Homo sapiens: one gene and its partners. The protein of the gene in region 4 purifies or fractionates together with the protein of the main gene of each other region. This does not show direct contact. Each region holds a gene or a part of one and is shown on either strand. Other genes may lie near its edges.

Region 1 (4,026 bases), on a different chromosome or scaffold from region 4:
CTATTCCATCAATTATAGAACCATCAAGTAGAAATACCTTAATGGTCAACTAGTTCTCTGATACTTCACTGCAACAATCCCTGTCTCCCAAAGCAGTTATCCTGTAACAGGGAGTCTTAACATCCTTAATTGAATAATTGTGACATTTTCTTAAATGATCAACCAAAATTCCTTCCTGGTTGCTTCCACACATTGATCCTAGTTCAACTTTTTGTGATAAACAGAATAAATCCAATTTAGTTACTTCAGCAAGACAGCCCTTTCAATATTTGAAGATAGCTATGAGCTGTCTCCCAAACCCTCACGTACAAGTGCATTTTATCCATCTCCCTGATAAATACCCTTTAGTTCCTTCAACTCGTTTTCTTATTACATGGATTTTAATCCTTGGTGCTATGTAGATGCATCATTTTGTTTAAATCTCACTTAAATGTTGATCGTCAGAACTGAACACAATACTATTTTTGGTGCGGTTTGATGAATGCAGACTTTAGTGAAAGTGTCATTTCCTTGGCCCTAAATACTTAATAGTTCCTTAATAATTCATCAGCTTTCCAGGGGTAGTCATATCACATAGTTCAAATTGGGCTTAGTGTCAACAAAAAACCCTTGGAGGTTCTTTTTGCCACGTATCGTTGCTTAAGCCACCTCTTCTTAAGCAACAAAGTACACAAAATAATGTACTTTGCAGAATACTTTCTAGATATGATCAAATTTTATCTTGTTAGATTGGAGCAATTGCTTCAGTCTCTTAAGACCTTTTTGAATGTTATTTCTATAATCCAAAGGTTTTAAGTTTCTCTCCAAGTTTTGTGTGATGCTGAAATTTAATTAGCTAATTTTTTGTATCTTTAAGTCATGATTAAATATGAACCAGTACAGAGCTTGAATCAGAGCTGTATCACATGGCCATAAGAACCTTCATCTGGGTCAATATCAGTCCTTTTGTTAATCCGCGCTTTTGGAGAACACTCATTCAGTTTGTCTGGAATACTCCTAAAAGTGCTATTATACAGCCCATATTTCTTCATTCTGTCCTTAAAAATTTTTCTGAAAGTCTTTGCTTAACTGCTTTTCTCAGCTGTTCTCATGACTTAGTCATCTTGGTCCTTTTCTGTGAATTCAATTTTAAAATTCTTGATTATTTTTATTTTTTTTCTTAAATTGACTCTTTTATTGTAGCAAATGAATGAAAAATTCATTTATTCTACCCCTCCTTTTTGGGAATGGAGGCCATAATTTTTTTTATCTCAAATTCATCTAAATGCTAATAAAAATTATGTATTTTGTTAAAATTGGTAAAAAATATAGGAGGTAAACAATGGAAACAAATGATGTGCTGCATGGAGCTCATTTCACTCTGCTGAATTCTAAAGTATGCAGTAAAATATTTTAAGTAATTTCAGTGTCTTTTAGGATTTCCCATACTCCCTTGTCAATTAAATATTATTTCTGTTCTTACATTTTGTCTTACATTTTTAAAAAATAAAGTAAAAAATAAGGAAGCTTTTAAATATTTAGTTATAAGATACTGTATAATATGTGCATAAGATTTACAACTGAAGCAAAACTGTACAGGACATATCAAAGGCACAGAATATTGTCACTGATAATTCTTTAGGCACCCATTGTATTGGACATAAATATGTTTTCTTTGCAATTATACTGTTTCCATGAAATACTTCTTTTAGTGATCAGCATAAAATTGTATAATAATTACCTTTACAATTTTGAGATTTAGTGTATTTCTTAATTTAAGGATGCTACCTTTAGGGCATTATTAATACAACTGTATAAACCAGAATTGTAAACAATGACCAGTGACAATTGCATGAGATGTGAGTAGACTTGGCAGCTCTGTGAGATGTAGGAAGCACATGGTATCAAGCTATATGTCATGAAAAGTAAGGTGTGCAAGGTACACACTCATTGAGAATATCAGACAAAAAATGCCTCTGCTCAATTTTCAAAAATTAGTCTCTCTTTTGAAATTTGTAATGTTATATTAAACTTTAACTCAGTATGTATTGCTCCTAGAGTTATTTGGCTCAGCAGTGTGGAATTTAATTTTGTAAGAAGTTGGGGGAATATACAGAAATAAAATATTAAAATATATTACATTTTCTCTGGTTTGATATCTAAATACAGTGAATATACAAAAAGATAGTTGACTTTTGGACTTTTTAAAGAGGAAATTTCTTAATTATTTGCTCTTGTCCCTTACAGATTGCAGATTTTGGTTTATCAAAGTGGCGCATGATGTCCCTCTCACAGTCACGAAGTAGCAAATCTGCACCAGAAGGAGGGACAATTATCTATATGCCACCTGAAAACTATGAACCTGGACAAAAATCAAGGGCCAGTATCAAGCACGATATATATAGGTAGAGTAAAGTTGCTTCTGCTCAGATTTAACCTTGTCTCAGACACAAAATTAGTCAACCAGAATTTTGAAGCTACATTTTAAACTGTGATTTTTATTCTTCTCTCATAATTGTGGTGAAAATAAACTTGAGGCCCCACGGTGATTAATATTTTTCAAATTAAGGAAATTTAATGATTTGCTTTAAGAAACTTTTACATCCTTTAAGAAATTTTAAAGCATCTCTTCTTATCCTATCAATTTATAATATAATAGTTAAGGATTTTTATCATATGTGACTTGGAAATGCAGAGGGAAACAGTGGTTCCTAACATTTTAGCTTTAGGTTTCTCAACCTGTTCAACCTTTTAGCTTTTGATATCTATATATCTTTTTAGATAAATAGACAAACTCTTAATCACACTGGGGATATTTCTATTTAAAGAATCCCTAATATTTGTATATGTGTGAATTTTTTATACAACAAATCAATGGGTTTGATAAGATCATATTTTCATATTTCAGATGCATATTACTTATAATCTCATAATGCAGTAATAAGCATAACACATTGTTATTGACACTGGTTATTTAACCAGAATAAAAGGAAGATGATTATTTACACAGGTTTAGGAGATGGGGACATTCACCTCATGTATAAGTTACTCTTATCTCTTTTAATATACTAATGAATGCAAAAGCAGACTCTCTAAGTTTGCTCTGAACACATTTTATAGTCCTTTAAATGGCTTTTTGCCATCTTTAATAAATAATTTGTTAATGAATCATTTTAGGAATGAATGCTATATCTCTACCAGAAAACTATATATTTAATTAAATTGCATATTCCTTTTCTTCAAAAGCATTTTAATTTTTGTTATTTCTCATTAAAACCAAAGCCAGCCAATCCATTTTAGTGGCTGCACTAAAACAATTCATACAGTGTCTTTTACATTCACATTGTATGAATATAAGAAACTGTCCTTTTATATTTTGTTTTCTGATATTTTTAATTCATTCTGAATGATGTACTGAGGGGAGGAGAAATGTATTTATAGCTTCCTAAGGTAGAGATCATGTTCTACCCAACAATTCTTAAAGCTGGTTTGATTCTATAAAAATGGGCCAATAAATCTGCCAGTCATTCATTTTGTGAATTTTCCCTTTATGTTCAATTTCAATATTCTCTGTCAGGGAAAAATGAGGAAATATTATTCCTTCATTTGGGTAGGAATTCCCTCTGTACTCCTCGCTCTCCCTGTAACACAAGGTGTTAGTAGTAATAAATTCTATGTGTCCATTTTGAATGCATGGTTAATGTTGGGGTGTGGCAAAATTCTTATATCCTATTTAACCATTTATTCTAATTATAAACTCTATGCAGCTTAACCCTGTAATTGACATCTGAAGTTAAACTGTAGGCAAGATATTTCTACTACCAAAGAAGATAGTGCTGAGAGCAGAAAAAAGGCAGTAGAATAGAGCTCCATGAGACAATTTTTTTCTTGTTCTTTGTTCTTTGTGAAAAATAATATCATTTAATTAAAGGGCATAGCTTATCTGGGTGTCCAAGAATTAAATCATCCACAAAAAGTTAATCTTGCATGTAACGTTAAGCTTGTATTACAGTAATTTCCTAATTTTTTAACTTAAAGTTGATTTTG
Region 2 (4,026 bases), on a different chromosome or scaffold from region 4:
CATCCCATGGCTGCGTGCGGTGGCTTGTGTCTGTAATTCCAGCACTTTGGGAGGCCAAGGTGGTAGGATTGCTTGAGCTCAGGAGTTTGAGACCAGCCTGGGCAACATAGTGAGAGCCCGTCTCTACAAAACAACAAGAAGAAAAAGAAAAAACTTTCCCATGTCCTCATAACATTTGAATGTCCCACCTGATATCCTGGTATCCACACAGGTGAACAACCTTTTCAGAATTACTTGAACGATTCTATTTTACATACAATCACAAAGCATTTTTGTACAGCTTCAATAAACATCAATTTTTCCAAAAATACAACTATCGTGTAAGTCAAGAGAAGACTGTACTTTGCCTTTTCAAAACTCTACCAAGAACTGTTACCTATTTTGGAAAATCACTTGACCAACGGCAATGCTGCCCCTAATTTCTGAGTCACCGGTAAAACACGCCTGTCACACCTATAAACACACATCAGCCTGCATTTGTAGCTGTTAACATTCATGGTGATTCTGTTTAGTGCAACCATTTTACTTCTTGGATAACTACTACATACTGAAATACATTATCTTCTTACTAAAAATGTTTCCTTTTATATCCCCCTATTACAGTTAGGGCTTTATACTGAACTAATTTTTAATATGTGTGTACAGAAGTTATATTACCTAAGAATTTCACTTCAGGATAATAAAGGGGATATTCCAATGTTCTTGGTATAAAAAGGGGAGAACTGGGTTTAAAAGTTGAGAAACACTAGACTAGATCACCTCTAGGTGTCTTTCCACCACTAAAATTCTCTAAGCTTACGGTTTTCCTGGAATAGTGAGTGGCATGGGGAAGGAAAGACTAACAACAGTCTCAGAGGTGGTAAGTGGCAGATCCAGACCAGAGCCCAGGTGTCCTGACTCCAAGGCCCCTTGCTGCTGAACCAGGCTGCAGGCAGTCACACTGAGACAGCCTGAGGGCCAGAGAGGAGACGGAGAAAAGACCTCACAACTCATCAAAGAGGACCTCTCTTACCTTCAATGCGGGGGAAGTCATTCCTCGGGAGGGGCTGCAGAGAGACAAAGGAGAGGCTATCAACACAAGTCGCCTTCCACTCCAGGAGAACCACAACCCCACCTCCAGGGTGCTGGGAGGGGAGGGGAGACACACTCCACAGACCCCACACCCGTGGTCAAGCCCAAGCCAAGGGAAAGCTGGAGAGGACTGAGAAAGATGCAAGAAAGGCGAAAAGACAATGGCCAGGTGGGGCCACAGAACAGGCAGGACACCATGGGTGAAGTCACCAGGAGGAAGGGTGGTCAGCTGTCTTTCTCTGGTGGGAGAGGACACAAGATATAGCCAAGCAAGAGTCTAAAATCAGGCAGCTAAGGTGAGGCCGTGGAGACGAAGGCGGCATCACGCCTGATGGGCCATTTCTCCTCATGTCGGTTCTTGAGCAGGCAGCTTCACTCGACCAGCCTCGAGGGTCCACTCCATCCCCAGGCCATGGTAGTCTTGGCTCTGCCACTAAACAACTATGTGACCCGGGACAGGTCACTCCCCTGTGTGGGGCTGTCTCTGAGCTATTCCGAGATCTGTTCCAACTCTGACATTCTGGTTCTCCACAGAACTTGCACAGGTCAGGGAGAAAGCCCTCACAGGGGAGGAAGTGCTCTGTTCCATCAGAAAGCGCTGGAGGAGGAAGGACTTAAGCTATATCAGCAAATAAAAAGTAAGTTATCTGTTTATAACTGCATGTCGTCAAACTGTGAGAATGGTCTGACTCAAGACCTGGGCTATGTGATACACAGACGGTGCGATGAGGAGAAAGTGAGCCAACGGGCACCTCAAGAGATGGCAGTCATGCTGCAGAGGATCACCAAGGGATCAGATGAGTTAGGGGACAAAGTCAGTGCTCAAAAATGAGCCCAGCGCACAGGGCACCTGGGCAGATGTGCAGACTGACCAGTGCTTCCTCTGCAAGCAAGCTACCTCTCCCGAGGGCAGCTCAGTGCCGGGCCTCAGGATTGCTAACTTCACAATGGCCAGCTCTCCTGGGCAGCACTGGGAAGGCCAGCCAGTAAGTCTGGAACTCCTTGTTGGACGGGATGCTGTGGCTCTGAAACGGGTTCCCAGCTAATTATAAGCAATACAGAGAGGACAGGGCATAAAGCCGTTCGCTTCTCTGGGCTTTTTCCTTTTTTTTTTTTGAGACAGGGTCTCACTCAGCCGCCAAGACTGGAGTGCAGTGATCACAGCTCACTGCAGCCTCCAACGCCTGGGCTCAAGCAACCCTCCTGCCTCAGCCTCCTGAGTAGCTGGGACTATAGGCATGCGCCACCATATGTGGCTTTTTTTTTTTTTTTTTTGAGACGGAGTCTCGCTCTGTTGCCCAGGCTGGAGTGCAATGGTGTGATGTCAGCTCACTGCAACCTCTGCCTCCCAGGTTCAAGTTATTCTCCTGCCTCTGCCTCCCGAGTAGCTGGGATTATAGGCATCCATCACTGTGCCCAGCTAATTTTTGTATTTTTAGTAGAGACGGGGTTTCACCATGTTGGCCAGGCTGGTCTGGAACTCCTGACCTCAGGTGATCCACCCGCCTTGGCCTCCCAAAGTGCTGGAATTACAGGTGTGACCCACCATGCCTGGACAATTTTTTAAATTTTTTTGTAGAGACGGGGTCTCACTATGTTGCCCAGGCTGGTCTTGAACTCCTGGGCTCAAACAGTCCTCCTGTTTCAGCCTCCCAAAGCGTTGGGATTACAGGTGTAAGCCACCGCAGCCAGCCTCTGGGCCATTCTCATAAATTCAGGGAACAAAACCCTTAGCCAGATGTGCCTCCAAAGAAGCATGGACAAATCACAGCTCTGCAGGAGGGCTTGCAAGGTCAGCGACACAGCCAATGCAGGGCACTGGAGGAGTGAAGGATGAAGACACAGCCCAACCCATGCTCCTTATTACCGTGGTCTTTAGCCGCCGCTCCAGGTCCACCATGTCAAGCAGAGGAAAGGCCATCCGCAGCTCATCCACGGTGACGACATTTCGGAAGCCCAGTCTGGAGCAAGCTCAGGAAGTAATGCTGGACAGTTCTTGGGGAAGATGCCTTTCTGAATGCATCAAATCACAAGTGAAGGGAACACAACCCACTCCTGATCAAGCCAGGCAGGAGGGCACCAAGCAGAGCCCAGCAAGGATGGCACAAATCCTGCAGGTGCTGGCAGGCAGGCTGTAACTGCACAGGTAGAGTAGAGAGGGCAGCTCCTGGGTAACCCACCAGCAGTCACCAGGCACATGCCAGCTACCAGGTCCTATGCTGGGCACAGCCTAGGGGGCAAAGGCACATAAGAATCTCTGTCCCCAGCTGGGTGCAGTGGCTCATGCCTGAAATCCCAGCACTTTGGGAGGCTGAGGCAGGAGGATGGCTTGAGCCCAGGAGTTCCAGCCAGCATGGGCAACATAGTGAGACCTTGTCTCTACAAATAAAGTCAGCTAGGCATGGTGGTGCACACCTGTCGTCTACTCAGGAGGCTGGGGCAGGAGGATCATTTGAGCCCAGGAGGTCAAGGCTACAGTGAGCTATGATTGCACCACTGCACTCCAACTTGGGCAACAGAGTGTGACCCTGTCTCAAAAAAAAACAAAAAACTCTGTCCCCAAGGAGCTAGCACATTCAGAGCCCATCAAAACCAGTGTTCTCTGAGAACAGTGCTGCTAGTCAGTGCTGAGTTCAGAAGAGACTCCTCAGTGGGCTGGGGAGTCCAGAGGAGTCATGGAGAAGTAGGGCTGGAGCTAAAATCTTAAAGGATGAACCCAAATCATCAAGGAAGAGGCGGCCTTGGGGAGGGGCAAGCCAGCTTCAGCCTATCTCCTCTAAGATCTGCCTCCATTTTCCTATCCTCAATTCCAACTTGCAATCTTAACTGGACATGGTTTGATTACTCTCAAAATGAATTTCCCCAAAATCCTGATTCTATCAGATTGCCCCATCAGCAATAAAGCGTGCCCTGCTTTCCACTGCCCTGAGAAGTCGGTCAGACTCCTCAAGTTTA
Region 3 (4,581 bases), on a different chromosome or scaffold from region 4:
TAGAAGGTGGTAAGTATTATGGAGAAAGAAAAGTAGAGAAGGGATCAGGAGTATGTGCCTGGGGGGAGGCAGAGACAGAGGTTGCCGTATGAAATAATGTAGTAGGCGGGGCTTGGTGGCTCACACCTGTAATCCCAGCACTTTGGGAGGCCGAGGCCTGAGGATTGCTTGAGCTGAGGAGTTTGAAACCAGTCTGGGCAACATAGTGAGCCTTGTCACTAAAAACAAACAAACAAACAAAAAAAAAAAAAAAAGGAAAAGAAAAAAAAGTGCTGCAGTCAGGGTAGGTTAAACCAGAAAGGTGAGATTTGAGCAAACCCTTGAAGGTGATAGAGTTAGCCAGGCATACCTCTAGAATAAAAGAATTTTAGGACAAAAGAACAACTAGAGCAAAGGCTGTATGTCTGAATGGTGTCTGATGTGTTCTAGAAAGAGCAAGGAGGCAATTGTAGCCAGAGTGGGCTGAGAAGAGTAGATGAGGCCAGAGATTCTAGGAAGAAGAGATAACAGGGGACCAGGACATGCAGGGGACCTTGACCATTGTCCTGTTGCATCAAATAAACTAACATCTACTTTATCCCTATAATGGAAATGATCGGCTCCTTTTTCTTGCTAGTAGAGATAAAATTATAAAGCACGTATTTGTCCATATAGATTTTCCATACTTGAGAGTTTCCCTCAGGAAAAAAATATGCTGAGATTAGGAAACTGGGGCTGTAAGACACCGAATCATTTGTCAACATAATGAGTAAACAATAGAGCCAGAATTTAAAATCGAGTCTTACTGGATCTTAAAATTGAATAGCCTGTACTGTGTTAAGGAAATCTCTGCAATATTTTTAAGTAAAATATATAAAGACATAGGAAAGCAAAAGAAATGCCAAACGAATAAAGACTTTCAGGTCAGTCAAAGGTGGTCAAGAGAGAATATGCAGAGGGAAGAAAATCAAAACACTTGGCAGCAAGTTTATTGCAACATGTATTTCTCAGTCTAAAGATGAAGAAATCTGTAATGGAAAAATTGGCATTTTTTTCTCTAAGGCAATAAACTGCAACTAATCTTATTGGCTAGGCTATTATTGTTTTTTTAAAGTCTCCTACATTTTAAAAGGGAGACAATCTCCACCAGCACCTTCCACACACCTAGAAGCTGGTTATAAATACACAATCTCAGGCCCCATCCCAGACCCACTGAATCAGAAGCTGTATTTTAACAAGATTCCCAGGTGATTCCTTTGCACATTAAAGGTAAAAAAGCTGTTACAACAAAACTGTAGCCCCCCAGCCCATTCAGAGGGTCTCTCAGGTCTCCCTTTTTCCAGTGTTCTCTATTTGAGGGTAGATTTTCTTGCCATGCTTCAATCAAACTAACTTACGCCAATGGATAAAACAGAAGCAGATATAGTTATCTGGTTATCTTCTATTATGCCAGACATTAAGGGAGTTGTAAAAATGTAAAACAATGTCACTCTTTTCACTTTTTTTCTGTTTAGGAAAAGTTATTTTTCATAAAAACTGTTATTTATGTTAACATGTAATGAGCTTCTTATTGTAACTTTTAAATAAACTAAATATCTGTAAAGTTTCTCAGTTATGTAGATACCTTTCGATAACGACAGACGGATAGATATAACCTACATAAACAAAAGTCCTTTGAGGTCCTGTTTAAGAGCATAAGGGAGCCCTGTTATCAAAAAGTTTTGAGGCAGCACTTTGGGAGACCGAGGCGGGCAGATCACGAGGTCAGGAGTTTGAGCCCAGCCTGGTCAATATGGTGAAACCCCCGTCTCTACTAAAAAGATCAGCCGGGTGTGGTGGTGCGTGCCTGTAGTCCCAGCTACTCAGGAAAGCTGAGGCAGGAGAATTGCTTGAACACGGGAGGCGGAGGTTGCAGCAGTGAGCCAAGATCGCGCCACTGCACTCCAGCCTGGGCGACAGAGTGAGACTCTGTCTCAAAAAAAAAAAAAAAAAAAAAAAAGTTTGAGGATCACTGTCTTATAATGTTCCAAGGAAGAGTTAAGTATGTATCCTAAAGAAAAGTCACCTTCTCAGTGACGTCTTCCCAAATCTCCCCAGGAAAAGTAGGCATTTTGTTTCATAGCTCTCAAATAAAATTAGAGTAGCTTACACCAATGCTGTCATTCGCAAATTTGCCAGTTCCTTCACCCTTATTAAATAATGAATTCTCCATGCTTCCAATTTGTTTACCCAGTGAATAGATTTTATGCATCAGACAGTATCTGAAACTTTTGATCATATTATAAACACCACCTTAGTAGTCACTGAACTACTTAGACTCTGTCTTCATTAATCCTCTGTATTTAGTTAGATTTGTTGATATATCTAAAGCTAATTTCCTTGTTTGATGGAACCCTCGCCAGGTCATTTCTAGCCCAGTTTGTCCTGGACAATTCTGGTCCGCGCCGCAGCCCGGGCACTGAGTCCGGGTCCCAAGTTCACTACCGCGCGGCGAGTCTAAGCCGTGGGGAACGCCGGGTTCACAGCTCGAACTGGGACACAGATCGCAGCCCGCGCTCCTGCAGCCGGGCCCAGGGGGTGACCACCTCCTCCCAAAACGCAGGCTCCCGGGTCCCACTGCAGGCCGCTGAACTAGACGGGTTGGATTGGGGCTCCGGAATGAACTTCTGGAGAAATCTTTCGGCTTTCCCCGACGTGGGCTCGGCGGTCTGTTCTCGGGGCGGCACGGCTGACACCCCTTTTTCCTCCGCCCAGATGCTGGTTGCACCCAGTCCGCGGGATCCAGGAAAGGAGGCCAGCTCTAGCCCGGCGCCGGAGTTGGGGAGCACTCCCAGCCGCGCGCGCACCGCCCTGCTTCAAGCCAGCGACAGGAGTGACTCGCTGCCCCACCCCACAGCCTCCCGGCCTGCAGCCGCGGAAGTCCCGGCTGGCACTCACCGCGCGGCGGGCAGCTGGCGCGGCGCACGGTGGCCGCCCAGGACGCGTAGGGACCCTCGGAGAAGGCGTGCGGCCATGTCCGAAACACAGGGGCGGCGGGGCGACGGAGGCGACTCTGCGGCTACTCGGCGACTCGGGGCAGGGTCCCCGGGAGGGAGGACGATCAGCTGAGGCGTCCACCTGTGGTGTCCTCCCAAAAAAGCGCTCGCGCGCGCCCTTCCGGAGCCCCAACCACGCCACAGGCTGGTCGCGAGGGAATACGCCCGTCTTGGCTGTCAGCAATAGGATTTTACAGCGAAACTGCTGCCTTTGCTTGCAGCATTCTTTCTTGTTTATCGAAGCAGCTCTGAGCCTTTTTAGCGTCCTGAAGCGCTTTGAGTAACGGATGAAAGCTATGGAGCCCCCAAATACGCGCAAATACCTAACCATAAAAATGTACGTGAAGTTTATTTTGTAACCTTGGAAATTGATTTACTTAAAGTAGGCTGAATAGTTTGAGCAAACCCTTGAAGGTGATAGAGTTAGCCAGGCATAGCTCTGGGAGCCCATGCTATTTATTGGTAATAGCAAGTAGAACGAATTAATCCGACACAGGATTTAGTAGAGACAGGATTTCACCGTGTTAGCCAGAAAGGTCTCGGTCTCCTGACCTCGTGATCCTCCCGCCTCGGCCTCCCAAAGTGCTGGGATTACAGGCGTGAGCCACTGCGCCCAGCCCGTTCTGTTAATTCTTAAATGTCCAAGTTCAAGTACATCCGTTGAACAATTACTCTCGCCCTCAGTGACATTTCAACTAATAAAAGCATGCCCTGTAGAACTCTCAGGTAAAAGATGTGAAATATCCCTCAAGGGAAACATAAATGGCTCAAAGGGTTCATGAAATCCTGGGTGATTGGCTTAAACTATCTGGGTAGTTTGCTTGACTTTTCATTTAATTTTAGCACAGCTAACTCTACATTCATAAACATATTTGTTCTTACTTCACAAAAGGAAACTCAGTAGAAAAAAACTGATAAACATGCTAACCAAATGTGATTCAAATTAACTTCACCAAGAATGGAACAAACTAGCATTAGAGACACCTGTATTGAAAGGAACACCACATTATTTATATACTGTTGGGAAAAAAGGCTGAGGGTTGGGAAGAAAGCTGAGGCAGGGCTTGCATGACTGACATAATGTCCTCTGGAATGTGTCTAGACTTGCTGGCTCCTTGCTTTTAGCCCTCCTAGGCTCCTATTCCCATTATCTCAAGTAGCAGAACATGTTCCATACAAATGTAAACCTCCATTTACTCACCTGTAAATGAAGAATAACAATATCTATGTCATAGGGTTGTTGGAAAGATTTTTCAGATAACGGAGGTCAGGTGGTTGGCACAAAGACAGGAATACAATAAACATTCGATAAATGGTAATTATTATTGTCATCATTGAGAAATACTCATATTTTGTAGTAGATAAAAGAAAGAACAAATCCTTTAAAAAAACCCTCTACTTTGTGTATTCCAATGCCTATTCAATTAGAAGGCAAATGTTCAAGAAAAGGAACTGCTTATGCTTTTCCTCTGATACCTGGTAGTAAATGTCATGGACTACACGGTCCTTTCTAAACCCCATGAAAATGCCAGCTTCTTTAACCCAAATAACTGCCTGTGTCTGTATC
Region 4 (4,677 bases):
CCAAAACAGCATGATCCTGGCATAAAACCACACACACAGGCCAATGAAACAGAATAGAGAACCCAGAAGTAAATCTACACATTTATAGCCAACTCATTTTGGACAATGATGCCAAAAACATACACTGGGGAAAGGACACTCTCTCCAATAAATGGTGCTGGGAAAACCAGATAGCTATATGCAGAATAAAACCAGACCCCGGGCCGGGCACAGTGGCTCACGCCTGTAATCCCAGCACTTTGGGAGGCCGAGGCGGGCGGATCATGAGGTCAGGAGTTCGAGACCAGCCTGGCTAACATGGTGAAACCCCGTCTCTACTAAAAATACAAAAATTAGCTGGGCGTGGTGGCAAGCGTCTGTAATCCCAGCTACTCGGGAGGCTGAGGCAGGAGAATCGCTTGAACCCGGGAGGCTGAGGTTGCAGTGAGCCGAGATTGCACCACTGCACTCTAGCCTGGCGACAGAGCGAGACTCCATCTCAAAAACAAAAACAAAAAAACAAAAACAAACAGACCCCAACTCTCAGCATATACAAAAATCAAATCAAAATGGATTAAAGACTTAAATGTAAGATCTGAAACTATACAACCACTAGAAGAAAACACTGGGCAATTGCTTCAGGACATTGGTCTGGGCAAAGATTTTTTTGAGTAAGACCTCAAAAGCACAGACAACTAAAGCAAAATAGACAAATGAGATCATATCAAGCTAAAAAGCTTCTGAGAGGAAAGAAAACAACGAGTGAAGAGACAACCTACAGAATGGGAGAAAATATCTGCAAATTCTCCACTCAACAAAGGATTAATAATCAGAATATACAAGGATCTCAAACAACTCAATAGCAAAAAATTCCCATTTAGTCCTAATAATAGTTAACATGTATCAGACCCTATGAGAGAAACACTGTTATATCCTTTACATAGATTTCCTTTTATGTTCAAAACAATCTCACGAAACAGATACTATTATTACTCCCATTTTGCAAGAAACTAAGGTTTAGAGAGGTTAAGTATCTTTCCCCAATTACATAGCTAGTGGAGCCAGGATTCAACCCAGGCAGCCTATCTTAACTCACTCTCTTAACCACTACAAAGGAGGTGGTGACAGATTGGATATTGGGGGTGGGGGTGGGGTGTGAGTAAGCAAAAAAAAGGGTTACCAGATATACTAGGCTTCTGGCTGGTATAACAGATTGTCTTGTATAACAGACAGAAGACTAGGTTTGAGGAGAAAGGGCATGAGTTCTACTTTGGACAAACTGAGGTGGCTTTGAGGAGACCAAGTGGAGGAAAAGCTTCCCAGGGGAATGGTAACTAAATATTGAAATATTAATATATAGATCTGGGGTCAGGCGCGGTAGCTCACGTCTGTAATCTCAACACTTTGGGAGGCCGGGGCAGGTGGATCACTTGAGGTCAGGAGATCGAGACCATCCTGGCTAACATGGTGAAACCCCGTCTCTACTAAAAATACAAAATTAGGGCCGGGCGCGGTGGCTCACGCCTGTAATCCCAGCACTTTGGGAGGCCGAGGCAGGTGGATCACGAGGTCAGGAGATCGAGACCATCCTGGCTAACACGGTGAAACCCCGTCTGTACTAAAAATACAAAAACAAAATTAGCCGGGTGTGGTGGCGGGAGCCTGTAGTCCCAGCTACTCGGGAGGCTGAGGCGGGAGAACGAACGGCGTGAACCAGGGAGGCGGAGCTTGCAGTGAGCGGAGATCGCGCCACTGCACTCCAACCAACGCGACAGAGCGAGACTCCATCTCAAAACAAACAAACAAAAAAACAAAATTAGCCGGGCGTGGTGGCACATGCCTGTAATCCCAGCTACTTGGGAGGCTGAGGCAGGAGAACTGCTTGAACCTGGGAGGCGGAGGTTGCAATGGGCCGAGATCCCGCCATTGCACTCCAGCCTGGGCCACAAGAGTGAAACTCCGACTCAAAGAAAAAAAAGTACATACAGATCTGGATTGGATCTCAGAAGCAAGGTCTTCTGAGCTGTAAATTCACAAGTCATCTGAATATAGATGGTAACTGAAGCCATAGTTTAGGATGAAGAATACAGAATGGAAAATGAAGGATTAGGATGAAACCTGGGACTCCTTCGAGCATTGTCCAGGGAAAGGAGAATAGTCTGAAAGGGAAACAGATGGACCAATAGGAGAAGTAGGAGGAGCTCTGTATCCCAGAAGCCAAAGGGGAAGAATGAAGGAAGAGAATGCTTCAAAAACAAGAGAGTATAACACTCTGGAATGCAGCTAAAAGGTCAGAGAAGACGAAAACTGAAAAGAATCCATTCGATTCAGTGACCATGACAAGATCTATTCGATGAAAGTGGGCTGAGAATTGAGTGGATGGTCACAGAGAGCAGTGTTTTGTTGTTTCTAATGAAATTTACCCATATTTTAAAACCTAATGGGATGGATCCAAAAGATCCTTGATGGCGATTTATTTAATTTTCCACTTTATTTTTATGCTTGGGGTCCATCCCATGTAAGAACAGAAGCCACAGCCCCCAGAACCAACAAAACTAAAGTTATTGACAATTACTTTAAGGCCCAGTGCCAAAGCTTTGGGTCGAAAGGTTTCCAACTGCCATAGGAAAGCAAAGATAAGGAGAAATCCTCTGTAGGAAGCTAGGGAAAGGAGCAGAGAGAAAGAAGCTAAGGTGAGGCCGAGAGAATTCAATCGGAATTCGAGTCCTCCCCCAAAACGCCGCCAGGTGGAAGATGCTCGGGGCCCACCAACCCCTGGAACCTGGCCACGGCCCTGGCAGGGAAAGCAGGAATTGAGGGAGCCCTCCGATGGGGCAGACCCCTTTCCCTCCAACCTACAGCTCAGAAGCTGAAGCCCTCCAACCAGAAGGACCTGGCGTGGGGCCTCCCCAACCCCCCTGCTCGTGGCCGCACCCTAGTCCCATGGCCCGCTGGGCGGGTCCACCCCGGGCCCAGCTGGAAGATGCTGCCCTGAGGCGTGGTGGCGGCGGCAGAGGCCAAGTACTCTAGCTATGGGCACTGGCCAGCTGCTGGGAGCGGAAGCGGCCGCCGAGCCCTCCTGGGCGCTGCCCGCCGCCGCCGGCTCCGGAAACCGGGAAAACCCGGCTGGCCGGCTCGCCCAGCCCTCCGGCCCCCGCCCTCCCAGCGGCAACTCACCATTTTCCTTCCGGCCGTCAGCGGCCTGTCGCCTACACTCGGGCGCCTTTAAGAATGGCACGGCGGCCGCCTCCCTTCCTGCCCCGGCGCCTGGCCCAGTCGCCCCCACCTATCAACGCGGCCTCAGCGGGCCGGCACGTGATGGCGGACGGCAAAAGGCGCGGCTCAAAATTAGACAGAATGCGATCGCCTGATTTTTTTTTTTTTTTTTTTTTTTTTTTTTTTCTTTTCCCTGCTCCCTCTAGAGGAGGACGCTCTGCCTGGCTGCAAGTGAGAAACAAACCCAAGGTGCATACTTAAAAGTCATGCCAGTTCTCCGGACCTTTTTCGCAGTCTTCAAGCTCTGAGAGCATGTTAATGGTGACATCAATGTTTTCAATGGTAAATGTGTGTACTGACCGCAGCCTACCTTCCAAATTTGATCTCCCTCAAATCTAGGCACACCTCCTTTCCTCCCACCCTCTCCAGAACCCCACTTCTGACCACGGCTGCCTTCCAGGACTTGGTTAATCAATCTCTCTCTCTCTCTCTCTCTCTTTCTCTCTCTCTCCCTCCCCCTTTCCCTCTCTCTCTTACACACATTTCTTCTCTCTCACACACACACACATTTCTTCTCTCTTCTCTCACACACACACATTTCTTCTCTCTCTCTCTCGTCTCGCTCTGTTGCCCAGGCTGGAATGCAGTAGCACGATTATAGCTCACAGCAGCCTCAAACTCCTGGGTTCAAGCAATCCTCCTACCTCAGCCTCCCCAGTAGCTGGGACTACAGCCGTGTGCCACCACACACCCGGCTAATTTTTAAATTTTTTTGTAGAGATAGAGTCTCCCTATATTGCCCAAGCTGGTCTTGAACTCCTGGCCACAAACAGTCTTCCTGTGTGCCTCCCAAAGCGCTGGGATCACAGGCGTCAGCCACCATGCCCAGCCTCTTTTCTCCATACAAGTTATTTATTGAAGTATGAATGAATGATGATTGGTGTTTCAATGAGCACTCTTATGGGCCACTGCCTAAGTAAACATCAAGAAGTCTCTGTACCAGATGCAGACTTAGTGGAACAAGTCCAGTTTTGAATGCATGAAGAAAGTGGTTTGGGAGAAGTAAAGTTTAGGCTCTAGGATTCAACAGGTACCTTCAATAAAACAAACTGCCTGGGGCAGTACCTCATTTTGTTATGACCATGGGTTCTTGGTCTCTCAATGCAAATTGACCTGAGGCCAAAAGAGTTTCTCCAGGCAAGGCTTCATTGGAGCTTATGCCGGAGCATAAGGGAGGCAGCATAAGAGAATGAGAGAATTCCCTGACTGACTCTCCTAAAAGAGCACAACAAATTAGGGGTAGTTTATGCAGGTCAGCATTATCTGTTTGCCAGGGTTGTCTTGAGTAATGGGCCACCCAATGGTCTGGTTTGCGGCAACAAGGCTGTGAATCAATTGTTCAACATTCCTCTCCAAGGTGGGACACTCTCAACCTTGGTTATCTCCTAAGGCCAGTCATTGGAATTCTTTAAATAAAAGGAC
Region 5 (4,026 bases), on a different chromosome or scaffold from region 4:
CTCATGGGCAGTTAAAAAAACCAAGGAAACCTGGCTTCTAGGCTCCTAGTGGGTGCACCACAGGGGACTCACTGCGGGTGGAGAGGTGGAGGTGGATGGGCTGATGTGAGTGTGTGTGTGTAGACAGCCTTTCTGACAAACAAGGCTGTATTCACCAAGGATCTCCTGGCGGGTATCTCAAATTCCATCATTCATCACTGACTACACTGCAGGCTCTGATCTTTATTCCAATGTAAAAGCCCGCTCCAGCTCACCTTTGAAGGAATTCTTGGTAGCAGACACTTGAGTAAGAATGGGTGTCAGACTTGAGGGCAGGTGTGGATGGGAAAGGTGAGGCCCAGGAACTTGGAAGGTTAGGCTGGCTACTCTCCAGGGGGTGGGGCAGGTGCAGGGGTGCATTGAGGGTAGGGCTCTCCCACAGGCTGCCCCGGGCCCTCCCCCACCTCCTACTACCTTTCCAGCCAGGTAGAGCATGTGGGTGTCAGCATCATAGAAGGGGAACAGGAGGCCAGAGAGCCCATCAATTTCCTCTTCGATCAGGGGCATGGAGAGGTCCTCCTGAGGGAGAAGAGCTGGTCTCAGCCTCTCTGCAGGCAGGATGGCATACCCCTCCCCAAATCCCAGGAAGGCCTCTTAGGATGGCAACTACTTTATGTTAAGACCTCCCCTAGATGTTAAAAAGCCCGTCCTATGGGTGGTGGCAAGACTGACTTTCTTGTCACGAAAAGCAGCCAGGGGCAGTGGAAAGGGTCTTACAAACAGGAGGCAAGGGACTTGTTCTCATTGTCCCCAAACCTGCTACTTGCTATGTGTCCCCAGGTAAGTCTCTCAATCTCTCTGGAGCTCAGCCCCCACTCTGGAAAAAGAGGGTGAACATCTTGCAGGTGTGGCCGACATTGTTCCTTGAAGCCTCTGTACCCAAGCTCGGCCTCTGGGGGTCTCTGTCTGATTTCTCCACTGGGAATGCTATGAGAAGCTGGTGTGCGGGCCCAGGCTCCTGACTTTCTGAGGAAGTGACCTCCGAGGCAACGATGCTTCCTTTAGCCCAAACCCAGCAGGCCTCCCCGTGGCTGACCTGGTCCCAGAGGGCAATCTGTCTTGTGTTCCACCTGGAGACCCCTGTCGTGAGGAGCCGCTTCATGTTCCCCAGGAACACCACCCGGTTCACTCTGTGGTTTTTGCAGTTGGCCTCCTAGTAGGAACAGAGGGAGGTGGTGAGCCAGGGTCCCCAACATGTGGGTTCTGCAGTGGCATGAATGGTGGTCCCGAAAAGATACACCCATGTCCTCAGCCCTGGCCCCTGCAATTATTTCCTTATTTGGAAAAGGGTCCTTGCAGATGTGGTTAAGCTAAGGATTTGGAGATGAGATTACCCTGGATTATCCAGGTGGATCCTGGATGCCATCATGAGTGTCCTTGTGGGAGAGAGGTAAGATTACAGAGACACACAGGGGAGAAGGTGTGTGACCCTGGAGGCAGAGACTGGAGTGATGTGGCCACCAGCCACGGGAGCCGGCAACCCCCAGAAGAGGCAAGGAATGGGTTTTCTCCTAGAGCATCTGTAGGGAGTACAGTCCTGCTGACACCTTGATGTGGGACATCTGGCCTCTGGAATGGTGAGAGAATACATTTCTGTTGTTTTCAGCCACCTAGTTTGTGGGCATTTGTTACAGCAGCCATAGGACACTGTTCTAAGCACTGTGCAGCAATGGCTCCACAGATGCCTTCTCTGCCATTTCCCAGAGAATGTGGGGAACAGGGAGCGAGAGGGGAGCCAACGTCCACCAAGTCCAGTTGGGGGCTACACCACTTCAGGAGCTCTCACCAGGGGCATTGCTTTTCATCCCCATAACAATATCTATCGGAAGAAATCATTATCCCCATTTTGAGGGTGAGGAAACTGAGGCTCAGGAGGACAAGAGACTCATGCCCATCACTGCTTCACAGCTTGCCTCATCAGGGAGTGCCTCCTTAACTGAGCTGTCTTGGGCCTCCTTTCCTGCCCACTGGCTCGTGACACTTGATTTCCTCCTAACACACAACAGTCCTCGGCATCAGGTAAGTTGGCAGCAAGTCAGAAAAGAGGCCAATGGGGCAGTGCACATATTCAGGCTGGCGTCACACACTCTGAACTCTAGTTCTAGCTCCACCAAAAAAGTGTAGCCCAAGAGAAGACCTTCACCTTCCCTGGGCTCATGGCCCCATTTGGGAATTGGAGGTGGGGGTTCTCTGTTCATAAACATTCTTTCTGCTTGGCATGGGCTCTGGGTTTGAATCCTAGCTCCTCCTGGAACTGTGAGATTCGAGTCTCCCAACTTCGCTAAGGTTAAGTGTTCTCACGTATCACATGAGAGGAGTAACAGCACCCAGCTGAGAGGGTTGTCCTGAGGATTAAATGAGATGATGTGCAGAGCCCCGGGCACAGTGCAGGCCACACAGTGAGCTCTTAGCAGATGTCAGTTAACACTAATCATGCTAAGCAACTCTCATTATTCTTATTTGTAGTGGTACAGGTTGAGTAGCCCTTATCTGAAGTGCTTGGGCCCAGAAGTGTTTCAGATTTTGGATTGTTTCCGATGTCAGAATATTCACATTATACCTACTAGTTGAGCTTCCCACATCCCCAAATCCAAAATCTGAAATGTTCCAATGAGCATTTCCTTTGGGTGTTATGTCAGTGCTCAAAAAGTTTTGGATTTGGAGTCTTTTGGATTTTGGATTTTTGGATTTGGGATGCTCAACCTATAGTACTAGAAAACTTTCTGGTCTTGTAATATTGGACTATTCCAAGGTAAACACACCCAGATCAAGCATTAATCCCTTCTTGTGTAGAAGGCAAACCTCAGATATCATCCATATTTTCCATTCCATCTCTCCCCATGACCAGCACACAGCAGGTGCTCAAAAAATGGTAATTTCTTACTTCCAAATGGCACTTAACCCCTTCCTCAAACCCAAGACCCAGGAGATTCAAAGACCAAAAGTGGAGCTAAGTTCACCATCAGCCTTGGCACCCTAGCCATTTCCCTCAGGCTCATCCTATCAAGTGGCTGGGCAGTGAGTCCAGTGTCTCCTCCTCCTGTGCCTGTGGTGGACCTGGGTAACACCTGGGGATGTATGCACTGAAGGGTGTCACCAGTTCAGCCCCCAGAGCAAGCCAGAAGAATCCTGTCTGGAGGTAGGGGGTGCAGTGGGGACAGGAAAGGGTATGAGGTCCCTCCCCACCCAGAACAAGGCAGGGTTCCTATGAGCTGAGAAGGGCCCAGGAGAGAGAAAGGTTGTTCAACAGAGGTGCAGTGAGATGCACTGGAGAAGGGGGCTGGCACAGCCTTTTTCTTCCAGGCCTGCTGAAAGCTGAGCCCCAGCCCTCAATACCTTCCCCTTCAATCTCAAAAAATGTAGGGTTCCACCTGCAGAACACGGCCAGAGCGGGGCTCAATCACACGCAGCTTCTTGTCCTTGCACGTGGTGGTGAGCAGGCTGCCGTCCGTGTTGAAGGACATGCAGAGGATCACATCCGTGTGGCAGTCAATCATCTTCACCGGCTCACCCACATCCAGGTTCCAGATGAGGACCTGCGAGGGCAGATGCATGGGAGGCAGGGTCAGTGGCTGCTAGGGTCCTGGGGTGTTTGTCCCCAGTGCACACTTGACTGCCCTGGGAGAAGCGCCCCATGCAGGGCCTGGGGTGTGCTGGGGTGCAGGAGGGGGTCATTGAGTTCTATATGGAAAGGCTGATACATCCCTGGCACACAAATCCATCAATATCCTTGGTCAGATCCCAGCACCAGCCTGGGCTCAGTTTATGGAAGAGCAAGAAGGATACATGTTCCTTGTCAGGTCCCATGTGGTCAGCCCACCTTTTTTTGAGGATATGCCTGGGGCTCGGGGCTGAGGCTCCACTTTTTGCCCTCCAGCAGCTTTGGTTACCCCTTTTGCCACCTCTTGGTTAAGAAGTGGCCAGGCAAAGGGTGTGGGCATGGAAGGGGCATTCTCCTCCAATCAACCACCAGAGAAGGCAGAAAAG
Region 6 (2,891 bases), on a different chromosome or scaffold from region 4:
CTTTGGGAAACTCTATTTCTTGGGCAAGTCATTTCCTCTTTTGGGGCCTCAGTTTACCAAAGAATAAAATGCACAGTGAAGGAAATAGGTAAGAGGCAAGTTCCTTCCCATGCTGGTGTGCAATTCTAACAAAATGAGTCCCCTTTATGGAGTGATATTACTTCATTTAATCCTCAGGACAACCACGCACCAGGTATCTTATCCCCAGTTATCCAGTTATGGGTGAGGACACTGAGGTTCAGAGAAGTGGCTTGCCCACGTTCTCACAACCAAAAATGAAGGGCTCTGCTTGCTTCACCGGGCCGTGTTCTATGCTGCAGTTCCATATCTCTTCCTCAGTGTGTGTCTGTTTAGATCACTAGTAATTCCCGGAATAAGATCCCAAGCTCTCAGGACGTCGTTCCCCAATCTAGGCAGAGTGCTTATCAGTCCCTGTGGCGCAGGTCAAAACACCCCACCCTTGCCTGCCTACCTGCTCTGCGGAAGGCAGTCATGGCCTCCAGTACGGCAGCCTTGAGATCAAATGCCCCGGCCTGGGCTCCATGCCACAGCATGGCAAACTCTCCAGAGACGTGGTACACGGCGAGAGGGAGGTCAGGGTGCTGCAGGGAAGCAGACAGGGAGACAGGCTGAAATGGAGGGTGGATGTGGCTCTGGAAGCGTCCCTTCCCCCCTGCTCAATCTGTGACCATCTTGAGCCCCGTGTCCTGGGTTACTGCGGCTGGCAGCCTGGCCCACTCTTGAACTGTTAAAGCAGGGCTGTTTGAGGCTCGTGCAAGCCCCGACATAGAAGGCCACGATGGTTCCTGGGCAGGGAAGGGGAGGAGAGGATGCATGCTTAAGGGCAAACTGCTTCCAACTCTGAGATTCCAGAGTCTGTGGAAAACTCTGTCCCAGCCCCCTGAGCCCCCTTTGCCTCGTACCTGTGCTCACCTTGTCCTTTACCTCCCGCACGATGTCCAGGTAGGGCATTCCCGGCTTCACCATGAGCATGTCAGCTCCTTCCCGTACATCCCGGTCCTAAGGGATGAGGGTATAATGTGGGTGGTGCCTAGGAGGGGGCTGAGGGTGGGGCTCAAGTCCTAGTCACTCACCACAGCTCGGAGAGCCAGGCCTCGTGCTCCAGGGGGCAGCTGGTAGCAGCGGCGGTCCCCAAAAGCTGGGCTTGACTTAGCTGCATCCCTGCAAAGCAGAGTCATCAGGGTGGGCTCCAGCTTTGGGCCAAAGGGCCAGGGATTCACAGCAGACCCCTGCCCACCCCTGCTCACCGGAAAGGGCCATAGAAACAGGAAGCAAATTTGGCACTGTAGCTCATCACCGATACCTATGGGGAGACAATGGAGGTCTTGGCTTATTCGGCCCTTGCCAGGTATCCCAGGGTGATGTGGCAGGGAGAGAAAGAACCTAGGCTGGGAAGGAGACTGCCTGTGTTCTGGTCCTGTTGGAGTGCTGGGCTTGATTTCCCTGCAGAGGCCCAGAGGTTTAAATGGTTCCCCAAAGCCTCATCCAGCACTGTCTTCAGTTCTGTGATTCTTTTTTTTTTTGAGATGGAGTCTAGCTCTGTCATCCAGGCTGAAGTGCAGTGGCATGATCTCAGCTCACTGCCTCGTGGGTTCAAGCGATTCTCCTGCCTCAGCCTCCCCAGTAGCTGGGATTACAGGCGCCTGCCACCACGCCCAGCTAATTTTTGTGTTTTTAGTAGAGATGGGGTTTCACCATGTTGGCCAGGCTGGTCTTGAACCCCTGACCTCAAGTGATCTACCTGCCTCAGCCTCCCAAAGTGCTGGGACTACAGGTGTGAGCCAACACGCCCGGCAGTTCTGTGATTCTTAGCAGACACGGGGGCAGGGCTGGTGCAGACTATCTCCTGCCAGCCCTGTGCTGCATTCCCTGCCCTTACCCTGTTGCCAAGTCCATGTGCCATCAGGGCCTCTTTGATGGCTTCCACGCGTCCATCCATCATGTCCGACGGGGCTACCACCTGACATCCTGGGGGGCAGAGGGTGGCCTTCAGAACTCTGGGGCCCTCCTAGCCACTCTGCCACCTCCTGACCCAGAGGTGCCCATCCCTGCTGGTGGTTCACTCACCTGCCTTGGCATACGCCAATGCCACCTCAGCCAGCCGCTGGCGGCTCTCCTCAGCCCGGAATGCTCCGTTTTCACTCAGGAGCCCTTCAGGACAGATGACTGGGTTTTGGGGAGCACCTTGGGCCCTGGCCTGTCCCCACCCTGTTGAGAAGTGGGCAGTAGGAGTGTGGGTGGCAGCAGGGCTGGTGGGAGGGAGGGAACTCACCGCAGTGACCATGGGAGGTGTAGGGACACAGGCAGACATCACAGGCCACCAGGAGGTTGGGGAAGGTCTTCCTCAACAGATGGATTGCCTCAATAGCTGGGGACTCCTCGGAGTCAGCTGCGGAACCCCGCTCGTCCTAGGGGCAGGGGAGGGACAAAGCAGTGTGTCTATTACATGTAGCTTTGGAAGGCAGGATGACAGCCATCACAGAGCATAGCCCTGGCCTTCTCCTTCCTTCATCATCACAGCCCCTGGATAAGGAAGCACAGAGGACTGACCCTACATGGGTGCTGACTTAAGGGCAAAGACCACGTCCATTCACCTGTGGCCCCAGGGCCAGCACAATGTGGGAGTGAGGGTGCAGTCAGTGTGGACCCTCAGTCCACCTTTGCCCAACCTCCCTTCCTTTTTCTGTTTGTATTGGAGACAGGGTCTTGCTCTGTCACCCAGGCTAGAGTGCACTGGCGCGATTTTGGCTCACTGCAGCCTCGACTTTCTGGGCTCAAGCAATCCTCCCACCTCTCCACCTCCCGAGTAGCTGGGACTACAGGCACATACCCCCACACCCAGCTAACTTTTGTATTTTTTGTAGAGATGG
Region 7 (4,026 bases), on a different chromosome or scaffold from region 4:
TGGTCGTCTTCACTGCTACACTCCCACCAGCACCATGACAGTTTGCAAATGCCATGGCAACGTCAGGAAGTTACCCTATATGGTCTAAAAAGGGGAGGCAAGAATACTCCACCCCTTGTTTAGCATATCATCAAGAAATAACCATAAAAATGGCAACCAGCAGCCCTTGGGGCTGCTCTGTCTATGGAGTAGCCATTCTTTATTCCTTTACTTTCTTAATAAACTTGCTTTCAATTAAAAAGAAGTTATTACTAGAAATACAGAATAGAAATAGAGTCACACAATGTGCCACACAATGACATTCCATCAATGCCAGACTGCATATAGGATGGTGATTTCATAAGATTATGATAGAGCTGAAAAATTCCTATCATTTAGTGACATAATAGCACAATACATTACCTTTCCTATGTTTTGAGATGTTTAGATACACAAATACTTACCATTGTGTTACAAATGCCTACAGTATTCAATACAGTAACGTTTGTACAGGTTTGTAGCTCAGGAGCAATAGGCTATACCATAGCTTAGGTGTGTAGTTGACTATACTATCTCAGTTTGTGTAAGGACACTCTATGATGTGTGCACAACAATGAAATTGCCTAACAATGCATTTCTCAGAATGTATCTCTGTCATTAAGCAACACATGACTGTATATAAGAATATTAATAATAATTAGGAGAATACAATTATGGGTTGTTTTCCATCTTCTGCATTTTCCAAAAATTTGTAATGTATTCATATTACTTCTATAGTTCAAAAAATATTACTGATGCCTATTACAAGGAAAGTAGTATGCCAGGCAATATATACAAAAAATAAAAATGTATATACTACCAGGTCTTTGATTCCCAGGGGCTTTCCAGCTATTGGGGGAATAAATTATAATGTGACGCAATGTATGGCTAACATTTCATAAGTAAAGAACTTACATATTCAAAAAATGCTGCAGGCATGGAGTTACATAATAACTCAAATAAGCTATTGATGTCTCTGAAATAAGTTACTGAAATAAGCTATTGATGTCTCCACAATTCTAACTTAAGAGCATGCTGATTTGGATGGCTAGCCTATTCTTTCTTGAAAGGAAGCCTTCAATGTACCTTAGAAATGCCCCCCCCTTTTTTTTTGCCTTAATTGAATTTCATTTACTATGCCATGCTCAGGACAGTTGTTTTATAGGGCCTGAAACAAAAAACAATTTGGGGGTCTTCTCTAAGGAGAAGAATACAAAACTGCAAATACAAAATTAGGTCAGGGTCTTGGAAGAGATTAATGTCAAAGAAGGGCCTGAAGTTTCAAGTCTGTTACCTTCAAGGTAAATCTCTTTCCAGTCATGGTTCCCAAATAAATTATTCTTTTCACTTGACTTACAGGTCACACACATATATATATAAAATTTAACAATTGTCATAAAAATCTATGAAATGAGAAACTTTATAATCAGCATCTTAAACAACAAACATGAAAATAAAATTCCAGAAAAAAAAATAGGGATTCACACTGCATTTGCTATAGTGGTACCCAGAGAAGTAGCTTAGTGCAGTGGCTTAGATATGAACTCTGGAGTCAAAGTGCCTGGGTTCAAATCTCAGCTTTACTACTTAACAGCTGAGTGACCTCAGAAAAGTAACACAACACAACCATTCTGTTGCTTAGTGTCCTCACCTGTAAAATGAAAACAGTACTTACCTAATGAGGTTGTTGTAAGAATTATATTAGAATTAGAAGGACAGCAAGATTATTTAGCATGTGTAAAATATTTAAAATCTGGCACATGGTAAGTGCAATGTAAGTGTTAGCTCCTATTAACAGCATATCACTTGTAATTCAATTTAGAAAATTACTTCCATTTCCTGAGCATCTCAACTGACAGAGTTCTATAAATATAGCTGAATTTATTACAATAATTTGCTAATATTGAAAAAAAACCCTAAATTTCATCAACAAGAAACATACTGAATGAATTAATGGTATATCAAGATCATAGAACCGCTAGGTCACCAACAAAAAGAATGAGGCTGATCTACAATTACTGACATGGAAAGATGTCTGTGATATAATATTAGTGTATAAGATTCTATTCACTGGCCGGGCACAGTGGCTCACGCCTGTAATCCCAGCACTTTGGGAGGCTGAGGCAGGTGGATCACGAGGTCAGGAGTTTGAGACCTGCCTGACCAACATGGGAAAACCCCATCTCTACTAAAAACACAAAAATTAGCCAGGCATGGTGGGGCATACCTGTAATTCCAGCTACTTAGGAGGCTGAGGCAGGACAATCGCTTGAACTCGGGAGGCAGAGGTTGCAATGAGCCGAGATCGTGCCACTGCACTCCAGCCTGGGCAACTGAATGAGAGACTCCGTCCAAAAAAAAAAAAAAATTCTATTCACTGTTCTTAGGTATGTATTTTGTTTGCTGTATGTATATGTATATAGGTTTCTATTCACATAGAAAATGGCTGGAAGAATGCATACCATCCTACAATCAGTGGTTACATCACAGGACAGAACTGGGAAACTTGTAATAATATACTTATATACTACTACAGTTTTATATTTTATAGAATGTGCATGCATTATTTTTATAATTTAATTTTTAAACTCTGAGTCAGAAAAATAAGGCCAACCCACCTCGGTGTGTCTACAAACTTCTCGATCAGCATAGCATCATCATTGAAAGACTTCTTAGCTTCTCTCCGTGCTGACTCTAACTGTTCTTGAAATTCTTGTTCTGATCTAACAATCCTCATTCCCTAAGAGAGAAAAGATGATTATGACTACAACATAAATAAAACAAAGAAGACAAGCCTGAATTGGCAAACACAAGCATGCACAATCTTACTTTTCCTCCTCCACCCCGGACGGCTTTAATCATGACAGGATAGCCAATTCTCCTGGCGTGTTCCTTCAGGCACTGGTCTGATTGGTCCTCACCATGATAACCCTCCACAACAGGTACTCCAGCAGCAGCCATTATGGATTTGGATGTGCTTTAGAGTGGGAAAGAAAACAACATGCCCCAAATTCTACAAATTATTTCATTCAAGACAAACATAAATATAGCCCAGTCTATAAATTACAATGGAACTCTTTAAAGAAAACATCGAGTCTGAGACGACAAAATAATACAAATTTAATATGTCTATTAGTTAGTTTCCCTCATTTCATGTGGTAGCTCATCTCACCCTATTTTTTAATCCCAAAATACTAATATATTGATTAGAAACATTAAGTATTTTCTGTAACTCAATAGAATTTCTCTATGTCACAGATAAATAACTTATGCCTATGACAACAGAAGGGTAGAATTAAAATATTATAGGTAAAACAAACTATTTCTTTTTTTTTTTTAGAGACAGGGTCTCACAATGTTGCCCATGCCAGAGTGCAGTGGTGCAATTATACTTCACTACAGCCTTAAACTTCTGAGCTCAAGTGATCCTTCTGCCTCAGCCTCCTAAGCAGCTGGGACTACAGGTGTGTGTCACCATACCCAGCTGAATTTTTTTTTTTTTTTTTGAGATGGGGTCTTACTCTGTCACCCAGACTGAAGTATGATGGTGTGATCACAGCTCACTGCAGCCTTGATCTCCTGGGCTCAAGCAATCCTCCCACCTCAGCCTCCCAAGATGCTGGACCCACAGGCACGTGCCACCATGCCTGGAATTTTTAAAAAATTTTGTAGAGACAGGGTCTCCCTGTGTTGCCCAGGCTGGTCTTAAACTTCTGGGCTCAAGTGATCCTCCCACCTTGGCCTCCCAAAGTGCTGGGATTACAGGTGTGAGCCACTGTGCCCAGGCCTGGCTGATTTAAAAAAAAGAATTTTGAGAGACAAGGTCTCACTAAGTTGCCCAGGCTGGTCTTGAATTCCTGGCCTCAAGCTATCCTCCTGCCTCAGTCTCCCAAAACACTGGTATTACAGGCATAGCCACATGCCTGGCCCAAACTATTTCAACTGACCTTCATACAGTTATATTTTAAAAGATATAAACTCATACCTCTTTATACCCATGTCTCTAAT

The links.
Region 1: the proteins of GMFB (region 4) and RIPK2 purify together in Homo sapiens (co-immunoprecipitation; one large-scale study listed by IntAct). This does not show direct contact.
Region 2: the proteins of GMFB (region 4) and HDHD5 purify together in Homo sapiens (co-immunoprecipitation; one large-scale study listed by IntAct). This does not show direct contact.
Region 3: the proteins of GMFB (region 4) and ACADL purify together in Homo sapiens (affinity purification with mass spectrometry; one large-scale study listed by BioGRID and IntAct). This does not show direct contact.
Region 5: the proteins of GMFB (region 4) and CORO2B purify together in Homo sapiens (co-immunoprecipitation; one large-scale study listed by IntAct). This does not show direct contact.
Region 6: the proteins of GMFB (region 4) and ALAD purify together in Homo sapiens (affinity purification with mass spectrometry; one large-scale study listed by BioGRID and IntAct). This does not show direct contact.
Region 7: the proteins of GMFB (region 4) and MCCC1 purify together in Homo sapiens (co-immunoprecipitation; one large-scale study listed by IntAct). This does not show direct contact.

Annotation. Positions count from the first base shown.
Region 1 is NC_000008.11:89,767,546-89,771,571, forward strand, and holds part of RIPK2 (receptor-interacting serine/threonine-protein kinase 2), read left to right. Parts: intron 1-2,226; coding exon 2,227-2,384; intron 2,385-4,026.
Region 2 is NC_000022.11:17,142,086-17,146,111, forward strand, and holds part of HDHD5 (haloacid dehalogenase-like hydrolase domain-containing 5 isoform 2 precursor), read right to left. Parts: intron 3,085-4,026; exon of another isoform or gene 3,033-3,084; coding exon 2,939-3,032; intron 1,047-2,938; coding exon 1,013-1,046; intron 124-1,012; coding exon of another isoform or gene 1-123.
Region 3 is NC_000002.12:210,222,271-210,226,851, forward strand, and holds the start of ACADL (long-chain specific acyl-CoA dehydrogenase, mitochondrial precursor), read right to left. Parts: upstream 3,178-4,581; 5' UTR 2,994-3,177; coding exon 2,917-2,993; exon of another isoform or gene 2,143-2,916; coding exon of another isoform or gene 2,129-2,142; exon of another isoform or gene 2,045-2,128; intron 1-2,044. UniProt on the Homo sapiens protein: Long-chain specific acyl-CoA dehydrogenase is one of the acyl-CoA dehydrogenases that catalyze the first step of mitochondrial fatty acid beta-oxidation, an aerobic process breaking down fatty acids into acetyl-CoA and allowing the production of energy from fats.
Region 4 is NC_000014.9:54,485,769-54,490,445, forward strand, and holds the start of GMFB (glia maturation factor beta), read right to left. Parts: upstream 3,213-4,677; 5' UTR 3,160-3,212; coding exon 3,157-3,159; intron 1-3,156. UniProt on the Homo sapiens protein: This protein causes differentiation of brain cells, stimulation of neural regeneration, and inhibition of proliferation of tumor cells.
Region 5 is NC_000015.10:68,711,091-68,715,116, reverse strand, and holds part of CORO2B (coronin-2B), read right to left. Parts: intron 3,576-4,026; coding exon 3,411-3,575; intron 1,193-3,410; coding exon 1,076-1,192; intron 559-1,075; coding exon 454-558; intron 1-453. UniProt on the Homo sapiens protein: May play a role in the reorganization of neuronal actin structure.
Region 6 is NC_000009.12:113,388,505-113,391,395, forward strand, and holds part of ALAD (delta-aminolevulinic acid dehydratase), read right to left. Parts: intron 2,430-2,891; coding exon 2,294-2,429; intron 2,173-2,293; coding exon 2,089-2,172; intron 1,990-2,088; coding exon 1,901-1,989; intron 1,325-1,900; coding exon 1,269-1,324; intron 1,183-1,268; coding exon 1,095-1,182; intron 1,021-1,094; coding exon 934-1,020; intron 603-933; coding exon 473-602; intron 1-472.
Region 7 is NC_000003.12:183,068,363-183,072,388, forward strand, and holds part of MCCC1 (methylcrotonoyl-CoA carboxylase subunit alpha, mitochondrial isoform 1 precursor), read right to left. Parts: coding exon 4,004-4,026; intron 2,996-4,003; coding exon 2,848-2,995; intron 2,759-2,847; coding exon 2,637-2,758; intron 1-2,636.